2 separate regions of the Homo sapiens genome follow, and region 2 is linked to region 1. Evidence: fine-mapped expression QTL. Tissue or cell type: whole blood. Region 1 holds a variant in brackets; the other region holds the start of a gene. All regions are shown on one strand. Distances are between the middles of the regions.

Evidence for each region. PIP is the estimated chance that this variant, and not a neighbour inherited with it, causes the effect.
Region 2: TPRA1 starts here. The variant in region 1 is fine-mapped to the expression of TPRA1 in whole blood (TOPMed, PIP above 0.99).

What each region holds. Positions count from the first base shown.
Region 1 is chr3:127,668,319-127,673,459 of GRCh38, forward strand. It overlaps PODXL2 (podocalyxin like 2), which reads left to right. Exons shown (of 8, transcript NM_015720.4): 5 at 123-279; 6 at 823-884; 7 at 3,116-3,295; 8 at 3,950-4,484. The coding sequence ends at 4,162. It overlaps ABTB1 (ankyrin repeat and BTB domain containing 1), which reads left to right and starts at 4,634. Exons shown (of 12, transcript NM_172027.3): 1 at 4,634-4,763. The coding sequence starts at 4,708. RefSeq lists silencers at 3,916-3,995, 4,006-4,605, 4,746-5,005. The variant C/T (reference allele first, on the strand shown) is at 2,742.
Region 2 is chr3:127,587,627-127,592,767 of GRCh38, forward strand. It overlaps TPRA1 (transmembrane protein adipocyte associated 1), which reads right to left and starts at 3,107. Exons shown (of 11, transcript NM_001136053.4): 1 at 2,784-3,107. RefSeq lists enhancers at 1,372-2,049, 2,050-2,726 and silencers at 2,460-2,929, 3,430-3,759.

The DNA.
Region 1 (5,141 bases):
GAGCTGCCTCTCTTGGAACAGCCAGAGGGTTGAGGGTGAGTACGGGGCTGGGCCTAGAGGCAGAGGGCTCAGTAGAGCCCCTTTCCTTCACTGAACACGGGGGGCTCTTTCTGCCCTTGTAGGAGGTGTTCCGGCAGCACCGGGGGCCACAGCTCCTGGCCCTGGTGGAAGAGGTGCTGCCCCGCCATGGCAGTGGCCACCATGGGGCCTGGCACATCTCTCTGAGCAAGCCCAGCGAGAAGGAGCAGCACCTTCTCATGACACTGGTGGGCGAGCAGGGTGAGCGAGGGCAGGTGATGGGAGGGCCCAGGAGGGCAGTGGGAGGCGGGCGGCCCCTGAGGGTCACGGGAAAAAAGTGCACGCATAAGGGCTTTGAAACTTGGAACTCCAGGACAGTAGTTTGAGCTACTTAGCTTAGTGGTCAAGGTGTACCCACCAGCTTGGGTTCTGGGGACAAGGAGGAGGGTGTGAGAATTAAGGATGGGGAACAGGAGGCAGGGGAACAGGTGTGGTCCAGCACAGGTGGGAGATGAATGGACACTGTACCTGGTGTGGCAGGGGAGAAGGGGTGTGTTCAGAAGGCAGTGTGTGGGCTTCGCAAGTGGCTGGCTGGTGTTATACAAATCGATGTTCTAACAGATCGATGCAGTGGAAAGCATGTCTAAGAGAGGGGGAGGCATGTGCCTTGAGGATCTGTGTGCAATTTGAGCCAGGAAGGGAGACAGAGGCTCAGGCCAGCTGTTGGAGAGCGGGGCCAGAGCCCTTGGAGGGGCACGCACCTCAGCCATGGTCACACTGATAGTGGTGTTTCTTACCCCCCAGGGGTGGTGCCCACTCAAGATGTCCTTTCCATGCTGGGTGACATCCGCAGGAGCCTGGAGGAGGTAAGAGTGCAGGGACCTGGACCTGTTAGCTTCTAATATGCTCCCTCCTGTCTCTGTTCCTCAAAGTCCCAGGAGTCTGCCCACATCGTGAGGTTCAAAGGAGTATAAGACAGAGCGTGCTCTGGGCAGGTTCCTTGCTTCAGGCCTCCCTTAGACATGGTTTTGTGGGAAAGACGGTGCATGTGCATGCTACCAACCAAAGGTCCAATGCAGGCAATGGCCAGGGGCAGAAAGGGGCCATGGGGGTGTGGGGGCTGTGCTAAGAGGCTGACAGTCAGGAGAGGGCCCAGAGAGGAAGGGTCTGGGGAGCAGTGAGGGTTAACTGGGAGTTTTCTGGGTAGACAGTGGCAGAGACACCATGCTGCCTGGTGGGAGGGGCGAGCATGATGGGTTCCAGAAACCAAAAGAGCAAGCCTGGGAGACCTGGACATGTGACTTGGCGTGGACGTGTGAATCTACTGGTGCTTGCACGGCCAGGCCCTGCGCTCCTGCTGCGGTGAGATGCGGCGCCTGGGGGCCAGGAGGCAGCCCTGCCATCTTAGGAGGTGCCCCCACCCAGTGCAGTCTGCTGGCTGCCTGGCCCATCCCGATCAACCTCTCCTACCCAGCTGCCGCACAAGCTTGGATGGGATGGCAGGGTCCCCCAGTCCTGCTCCTCACACCACCTTGCCTATGGGGTCCTTCTGTTCCTCATCTCACTTCTTGAGGACAGCCACCATCTCCACCAAAACTGCCTTTGCTCACTGTAGAGTCCAGTGCCCTGTCATCAGCCCTCTCCACTCCCGAAGGTGCTGCCATTTTTGGCAGGAGAGATGAGTGGTATAATGCTGGCCGCCTCTTCATCCTTGCATGCCAGGGGAGCAGAGGCCCTGGTGGTGGTGCTTTTCTGGTGAGCATGTCGAATGCCCACTGAGCACCACACTGTGCAAGGCTCTCTCCCTCAGTCCTCGCCACCACCCCATGGGGTTGTGAGGGTTAAGTGAGGCACCTGTTGAGTACCAATGGTGTCCCCATGGAAGATGAGAGCTGAAGCGGGAGAGGTTAGGTGACCTGTCTGAGATGGCACCAGCAGTAAGCGGTAGAGCCAGGCTTTGCAGGAAGCCTGATTCCGGAGCCCGGGCCTTTCACCACACTGCTCTACTGCCTGGAGGGCCACTGAGGCCCTTCCCAGTTCTGGAATCGTGGGTCCATGAACAGTGGGGCTGCTGGTGGAAGTGTGGGCTAACCTTGACCTTTTATACAGTCCTCCCCCTGCTTTTCGCTGCCCCTGAGTATTCTGGCGTTACTGGTCACTTAATTCACACTGACTTGGCCAAAAGTCATGCTGGGTCTTTGGAAATATACTCAGGTGAATCTAGCAAGAAAAACTGACCCTTGATAACAAAAAATTGAGAAAAGTACTGGAGATACACGGGTGGTTCACAGAAACCGGGGAAGAGCTGCAACCTGAACTCAGAAAGGGGGCCTGGTGCAACCTAGGCCTCAGCACTGGGAACTGCCCTGATCCCTCACCTGAGGAGCCCCTGGTGGTGCTCGCCCTCCTGCTTCTCTCTGCTAAGATGCTGATCTGTGGAGATAGCACCTGCCTGGCCCCTGGCGCCGATCTCCTTGGCCAGAGAAGGCAGGACTGACCATGACAACCTGCAGCGTGGAGGGATGCAGGCAGCTACATGCCAGCAGTGAACACGCCATGGGAAGGGAGGAAGCTGGGCAGCCGGGGTGGCCCCCCATGTGGCCTGCATGCCCTCAGTATCCCTCCCTGCACCGGCCCTGGCATCAGGAAGCTGACTGGTCCACCCCTCCCCACCGAGGTGGAAGCGGTTGTATGGTGGAGGATGTGTGGGGGGCTCACATCTC[C/T]TGTCTCTCTAACTAGTTAGGATAGGTGTGGGCACTCTCTCTAGTTGGATGGTGTCCAGCAGCATGGGTCCACTCTCACTGGAGGCCTAGGGCCACAGTGAGCTCAGACTCAGCGGCTGGGGCAGAAGCTATGGTGGGATGTGAAGGAGGCTGGGAACATGGGCATGGGGTGGAGAGGCCTCCAGGTGTACTGAGGCAAACGGGATGGGCATGGGGTAGAGGCAAGCCCAGGCGCCAGGGAACTTCAGGAGCCGGGAGTGCCAGCACCTTCTAAGCCTGCTCCCCCATCCCCACCCGAGCCCAATGCAACCACCCCAGAGGAGCCATGGCACCCCAGGACCTCAGCTGAGGAAACTGGCCCCTCCCACCCCTAGATTGGCATCCAGAACTATTCCACAACCAGCAGCTGCCAGGCGCGGGCCAGCCAGGTGCGCAGCGACTACGGCACGCTCTTCGTGGTGCTGGTGGTCATTGGGGCCATCTGCATCATCATCATTGCGCTTGGCCTGCTCTACAACTGCTGGCAGCGCCGGCTGCCCAAGCTCAAGCACGTGGTGAGTGTGGGGACAGGTGGGGCTGGGGGCCAGTTGAGAGGAGAGTGCCCATCGATAGGTGTCCTCATCTGCAAGGGGAGGCAGTGACTCTCCTGGGCGCACAGGGTCCCGTGGGTGAAGCAGCTGGTCAGCCTAGCACTGCTGACTGCTCTGCAGGGCACCAGCCCCAGGACAGGTGCCAGAGGTGCAGGGAGTGAGGGGGCTGCTAGCCCCACCAGGGGGCCCCTCCCTGGCACCACCAGCCCCTTTCCGGCGCAGGCACTGCAGGGCCTGAGCACCTGAATACCTCACCAGAGGCAGGCCCTGCGTTGGTGGTGCCCAAGGATCAAGGAGAGGCTCCAGCAGCCTAGAGGCCTCCCCAGGAGGAAGCGAGCAGAGCCCTAGCGATGCTCCCTGCCCACCTCGCAAGTGGAGTCTTCTTAGGGGGCTGTTGGGGGATCGATGACGTCAGGGAGGCCACGGGGCTTTGTAGTGCCAACGACTAGTAGGTTTATTTTGAGAAAGGAGTTGAGCTGCAGCAACAGAAAAGAAGGATCTGGCACCTGTGGAGGGTGCCGCGGGAACCCCCTGGGTGGGGTTGCACAGACGGCCGCGGGCCTGGCGCTGTCCGGGGGCTGGCTCGCTCGCCCATGGCCTCTCCCCACCCCGCCTCAGTCGCACGGCGAGGAGCTGCGCTTCGTGGAGAACGGCTGCCACGACAACCCCACGCTGGACGTGGCCAGCGACAGCCAGTCGGAGATGCAGGAGAAGCACCCCAGCCTGAACGGCGGCGGGGCCCTCAACGGCCCGGGGAGCTGGGGGGCGCTCATGGGGGGCAAGCGGGACCCCGAGGACTCGGACGTGTTCGAGGAGGACACGCACCTGTGAGCGCAGCCGAGGCGCAGGCCGAGTGGGCCGCCAGGACCAAGCGAGGTGGACCCCGAAACGGACGGCCCGGAGCCCGCACCAGCCCCGCGCCTACCCGGGCCGCCCCCGCGGCCTGGCCCTCGGCGCGGGCTCCTTCCCGCTTCCCCCGACTTCACACGGCGGCTTCGGACCAACTCCCTCACTCCCGCCCGAGGGGCAGGCCTCAAAGCCCGCCTTGGCCCCGCTTTCCCGCCCCTGAACCCCGGCCCCGCGGGCGGCGGGCGGCGCTTCCTGCGCCCCGGGACTCAATTAAACCCGCCCGGAGACCACGCCGGGCCCAGCGCGTCTGCCTTCTTGACTCATTCTTATTTCCGGGGTTGGGGCGGGGCGGGGCGGGCGGGGCACCCCGGGGCAGGGGCGGGGCCGCGGGGCGGGGAGGCCGGGGCGGGCGGGTCCTCCGGACGCCGCTGCAGAGCGGGGCGGGGCGGGGCTGAGCGTGTTTACATCCGCCGGGTGCGCGGCTTCGCCGCCCGAGGTCGTTCGGCTCGGGTACCATCCTCCGCGCCATGGACACCAGCGACCTGTTCGCCAGCTGCAGGAAGGGGGATGTGGGCCGAGTGCGGTGAGGACCTCGCAGTCCCGGGGAGGGTGCGGGAGGTGGCCGCCCTCGGAACGCCTCGGGCCCTGGGACGGGCGGCTGGGCGGCCGCGGAGAGGCGGGCGCCTCTGCCGGGTCACAGCCCTCGGAGCGCCCCCGCGGGGCAGACCACCCGGACCCCCGCCGCAGCCCCCCAGCGGAAGCGCGCTGGGGCGGGGACACTGATGGCCATTGACCCCCGGAGGGCTTCCTGTAAGAAGGGACTGCTCAGCGGAGGCCCGAAGGCGCAGAAGTGGGCGGAGAGAAGGCGGGCCACTGTTCGCCCTGGTAGGGCCCGGACGTCAGACCCCCCGGGCGCAGGGCGCGGGTATAGGCCTGGGACTCCAGACGTGGCCCCTTTCTC
Region 2 (5,141 bases), 81 kb before region 1:
GTAAACATCTACAAAAGTGACACATGTACAAAGGTGGTTGCTGCTTTTCTTTTTTTTTTTTTTTTTTTGAGACAGAGTCTTGCTCTGTCGTCCAGGCTGGAGTGCAGTGGCGCGATGTCGGCTCACTGCAACCTCCACCTCCCGGGTTCAAGCAATTCTCCCACCTCAGCCTCCCAAGTTGCTGGGATTACCAGAGAAGAGACTGAAGGGCAAGGAGGGAAAGGAATTGGTTCCCAGGTCCATGGACCTCTTGTGAAGCCCCCATTGCTGTGGGGTCTGAGGAAACACAGAGGAGGTGTCAGCTGCTCTGCCTGCCCCCACTCCCCTGCCAACAACGTAGTAACCTCTGTGCCTAACCTCTGAGCCCTGGCCTCCAACCCTGGGAGGGAGGTACTTATGTTATCCGCATTGTGCACGTGGAGCTCAGAGGGGCAGCCACTTGCCAGGCCAGCAATCCAGGCTGTCTGTCTCCAGAGCCCAGGCCCCCAGTCAACAACTTGCCAGGTGCCCCTCTCCAGGCCTCGGCTTCTCCACCTGTGGGTCAAGAGCACCAGGCTTGTTCTAGAGCTATCTTCTCAGACCTGATGTGGGAAATACCCTGGTGTTGTTAACATGCAGATGCTGCTCCCAAGGGCAGGGGTAGGGCTGAACAGTCTGTGTTTCCCACAGGCTCCCAGGTGGTGCCCCTGCTGCTGCTACTTGATCCAGCAACCACACTGGGGTTATGGGGCTGCTGGCCATACCAGGATTGCCATTACGTATCAAAGCTTAGGAAATAACTGAAGCACTGACTTTTTTTTTTTTTTTTTTTTGAGACAGAGTCTCGCTTTGTCACCTAGGCTGGAGTGCAATGGTGCGATCTTGGGTCACTGCAACCTCCGCCTCCTGGATTCAAGCGATTCTCCCGCCTCAGCCTCCTGAGTAGCTGGGATTACAGGTGTGCACCACCACACCCGGCTAATTTTTGTATTTTTAGTAGAAATGGGGTTTCACCATGTTGGCCAAGCTGGTCTCAAACTCCTGACCTCAGATGATCCACCCACTTCAGCCTCCCAAAGTGCTACGATTACAGGCATGAGCCACTGCGCCTGGCCCGCACTGACTTTTAGTTAATAGGATGCACACTTCCTATGTGCAGACATGGTGCTCAGTGCTTTACACGTGGTGACACACTTAACAATGGCATCGCCTTCTAAGGGAGAGAGGACAATTACTGTCCCCTTATACAGAGGAGAGGAGAGGCAGAGAAGGGGTCAGTCCTCAGCCTTCTCTACTTAGTTCTCTTAGACTGATGCTCCCAAGCACTGACAAAGAAGTGGGAGGGGTTGGTCAGCTCACGATAGGGGCCTAAGGGTGGTGAGAAGGGGTGGTGAGAAGGGGTGGAGCCCAGGGGTGATTCTCAGAGGAGGAATTCCTGCGGTGCAGAGCACCCTGGGCAACCCCAGGCCTCCCAGGAACAGGGAAACTGGGACAGACTGTTTCTTCCACCTGGGAGGAGTCTCCCAGACTCACAACATTCCAGGGGCCTCTGCCTCCCTCCCTCCCACCCAGTTGAGGGACAGGATGCTGGCTAGGCTCAGGTCATGGTCACGCAATGCAGGACCCGCTGAGAACGACTGGGTAAGGCCTTCTCTCTCCTCTCTGGGACTCAGCTTTCCCTGCTCTCTCATCTGTGCAACAGGATTGACCAAACCCCACCCACAGCTACCGGATAGGAAACCCTGGGGAGAGGGGCCCTCAGTGCTTCCCACACCGACGGGTTGTTGAGCTTACAAACCCTAGGGCCTAAGGGTGGTGAGAAGGGGTGGAGCCCAGGGGTGACAAGGTGGGGAAGGCTCCATAGGGCAGAGGCCAAGTAAGTTACTTTGCTCTCCCCTGTTGTCCTTCGGCCTTGGGGCTGGCAGGCGTGTGGTCCCTGTCCTAAGCCGGAGACCCCAGTAAGATGGGGAGGCCTGGGCCCAATCTGACCTGCACCTTGCCCTCCCTGCTTGCCTTCCACCTGCTGAGCTGGTCCGTTCCTCAGGGCCTTTGGGCTGGCTCTCCCCCAGCTCTCTCCTGACACCTCCTCTGAGAAGCCTTCCCTTCTCAGCTGTCTCCAGCGCCCGAGCCGCGTCTGGGTATTTACTACTCTCTATCCCGGGAGTGCTCAGGACTCGGTCCCCTAGAACAAGGCCTGGCACGACACGAGCCCTCAACAGGTTGTTATGACGGGAACAACTGAATCTCCAGCACCGCCAAGCCCCGCTGGGGACTGGACGACCCTGCGGCCCCTCCTCACTGCAGAGAAGAGGGCAAAGCCAGCCCCCACCTGCATTCCCCGAGTCCAGAGGGAGCGGAGGCTTCGACATGGCCCCCTCACGGGGCAGCAAAGCCCCGAACCGGCGGCAGGCTTGGCTCAGGAGCACCTCGGCCGCTGCGGGCAGCCACCGTGGGGCTGGAGCCCGTGCCGCCACCCCGCGCCGGACCGGGTCGCCGAGGTCCGGATCTCCACCCGCACTGCCTCCAGCCGGGGCCGAGCCCGACGCCGCTACGTGCGGCTCCCTCCCGGGCCTCGCGTGCCCCCGCGCCCCGAGCGACTCCCGACTGCCCGGCACCCCTCCCGTGGGTTCCCACATCCAGGGCCTTCCCTCCCAAACGCCGCCTTGGCCGTCCGAGCTGCGCCCGAGCGGAAATGGGCCGCTCGCGGAGCAAGGAGGGGAACGGCGGCTGGGCTTCCCGCCGGGGCGAGGGACGGGGCTCCCCCTCTAGCTGCGGCAGGAGACGGGGAGAAGGCCCCTCCTTACCTGACAGCCCGGGCCGCGCTCAGGACCGGCCGCCCCGGCCGCCCCGGCCGCCCATCCGCCGCCACTGGGTGTGCGCGGATCCAGCACAGGCCGCGGGACTCCGGCCTCCAGCGCCAGACCAGGCGGCCTGGGCCGGGAAGCGTCGCGCAAGGACCGGGCGCGACCGGCTCCGTGGAATGAGGGCTAGGCAGGAAAGGCGAGGCGGGGTCAGCTCGCCGGGCCGCGGGTCTCGCGGACACCCTGCAGCCCTTCCCGACAGCGGCGACCGGGAAAGCAAGACCGTCTTTTTCGTCCAGCCCAAATTGCGAAAACGGCCACAGTCCCACAAGTCCCAGAGTCCCAGAGTCCCTGTTATCACTCAGGCCCGCCCTCTAACCTCCAGCAGCCTATAGGAATAAGTCATCACTGGGGGAAAAAAAAAAAAAAGTGGGAGAGACCAATCAAATTCCCAAGAGGCGGAGCAGCCCGCTGACCTCTTAAAGAGACAGCACAGAGGAGGTGCAGAGACAAGACGCTGCTTCACGGAAGAGAGAGGCCTGCGTTTCTCACTCGGAAAGCGGGCGGAATCGAAGACTGGAAAGCTGAGGACGCGCCACCTCTCGCCCTACGCGCCTTCCAGCTGGCAGCAGTTGTCAGTGGACCAGCTGGCGGCAGCCGCGCTCCACCTCCCGGCCTGGGCCGCGGCCGGACCGTCGGGGCGGAGCCTCCGGGGACCGCCCCCTCGCGTGCGGGCGCTTCGGGCGCCCTGCAGGGGTGACCTGGGGTCAGCTTGGGGGAAGGCGTGTCGGGGACCCTCCCCGGCGCCACGCGCTCCAGCCGCGCCACGCCGCAGGGCCGCCGCCTCCCAGCGCCCTGCTCCACGCGGCGCCGCCATGCCTCGGGCACTCCTCTTAGCAACCCTGCTAGGCAGTCATTATAGTCACCTTTTACAGGGCCACCTGAGGCTTGGAGAGGTCAAATAACTTGACCAAAGCCGCGCAATGAGGAAGCGACACAGCCAGGACGCCTCTCCCCAACTCTAACTTCCACAGTTCTTCACGCCTGTTCCTCTGGAAAGCCCTCCCTGATTGCGCCTGTCTTATCCCCTGGCATCGATGCTGCATTCACCATACTCAAGCCATGCGGGTCTCTGTTTCTGTCCCTCGGCTGTTCCAAGCTTGTTCCTGCTCCTGGCTCTACACCTGTTCCCCCGCAGAGCTGGCTCCTTGCCACATCATGTCCTCTAGAGGGTTTTGTGGACACCCTCGCTGGAGCGGCTGTCCAGTCTCATTTCCTTCCGAGCATCTTAATTCTCACCTGATTGTTTTCATTTACCTGCCTCCCCGTCCAGTCTCCCCACCCTATTATAGAATTCCAGCGTCATGAGGATGGAGCCAAGAGAGCCAAGCTGCAGGATGTCCCCTGCAGCATCCTGAGGCTGACTCAGAGCCTCGTGCAGATTGTAGGCACTCAGTTATTACAGGCACCCCAAGACTCACACCTTGCGACAGCACCGCTGGGCTGGAATGAGATTGGGTCCCATTCTTCTCCTTGCTCCTGTCCTAAAAACACAGGGAGATTGGGGAAGAAACCACCTTGTGATCCTCTGGGACTTTCCCAGCCTGGACCACACCCAAATGTGCATACCTAAGTTTAGGCTTCTATATTCGCCAGAGAGGCTGGGCAATGCCGGCCTGCGTAATCACGAATGACCACAGCCACAATGAGCCGTGGGGAATCCAGTGGCTCCTCAAGTTCCTCCCAGAAAGTTATACACATCACTCTCACGCACATTCAATTGGCCACCGCTTCTAGCCTCCAGAGGGCAGGAAACTGCCACCCTACCATGTGCCAGGAAGTAGAAGTCATGGGACATGTGTGACCAGGCCTAATAACTACCCTCTGTAAGGTTCTTGTATCGGTTCGAACCCTGCGAGCGCGCCGACACACAACACGAGGCGGTGTGGAGCAACATGCTGTTTTTTTTTTTTTTTTTTTTTTTTTTTTTGAGACGGAGTCTCGCTCTGTCGCCCAGGTCGGACTGCGGACTGCAGTGGCGCAATCTCGGCTCACTGCAAGCTCCGCTTCCCGGGTTCACGCCATTCTCCTGCCTCAGCCTCCCGAGTAGCTGGGACTACAGGCGCCCGCCACCGCGCCCGGCTAATTTTTTGTATTTTTAGTAGAGACGGGGTTTCACCTTGTTAGCCAGGATGGTCTCGATCTCCTGACCTCATGATCCACCCGCCTCGGCCTCCCAAAGTGCTGGGATTACAGGCGTGAGCCACCGCGCCCGGCCGCAACATGCTGTTTTAATGAGCGCCTGGGTGCAGGTGGGCTGAGGCCTAAAATGGCATCAGCCCCAAGTGAGGACGCGGCAAA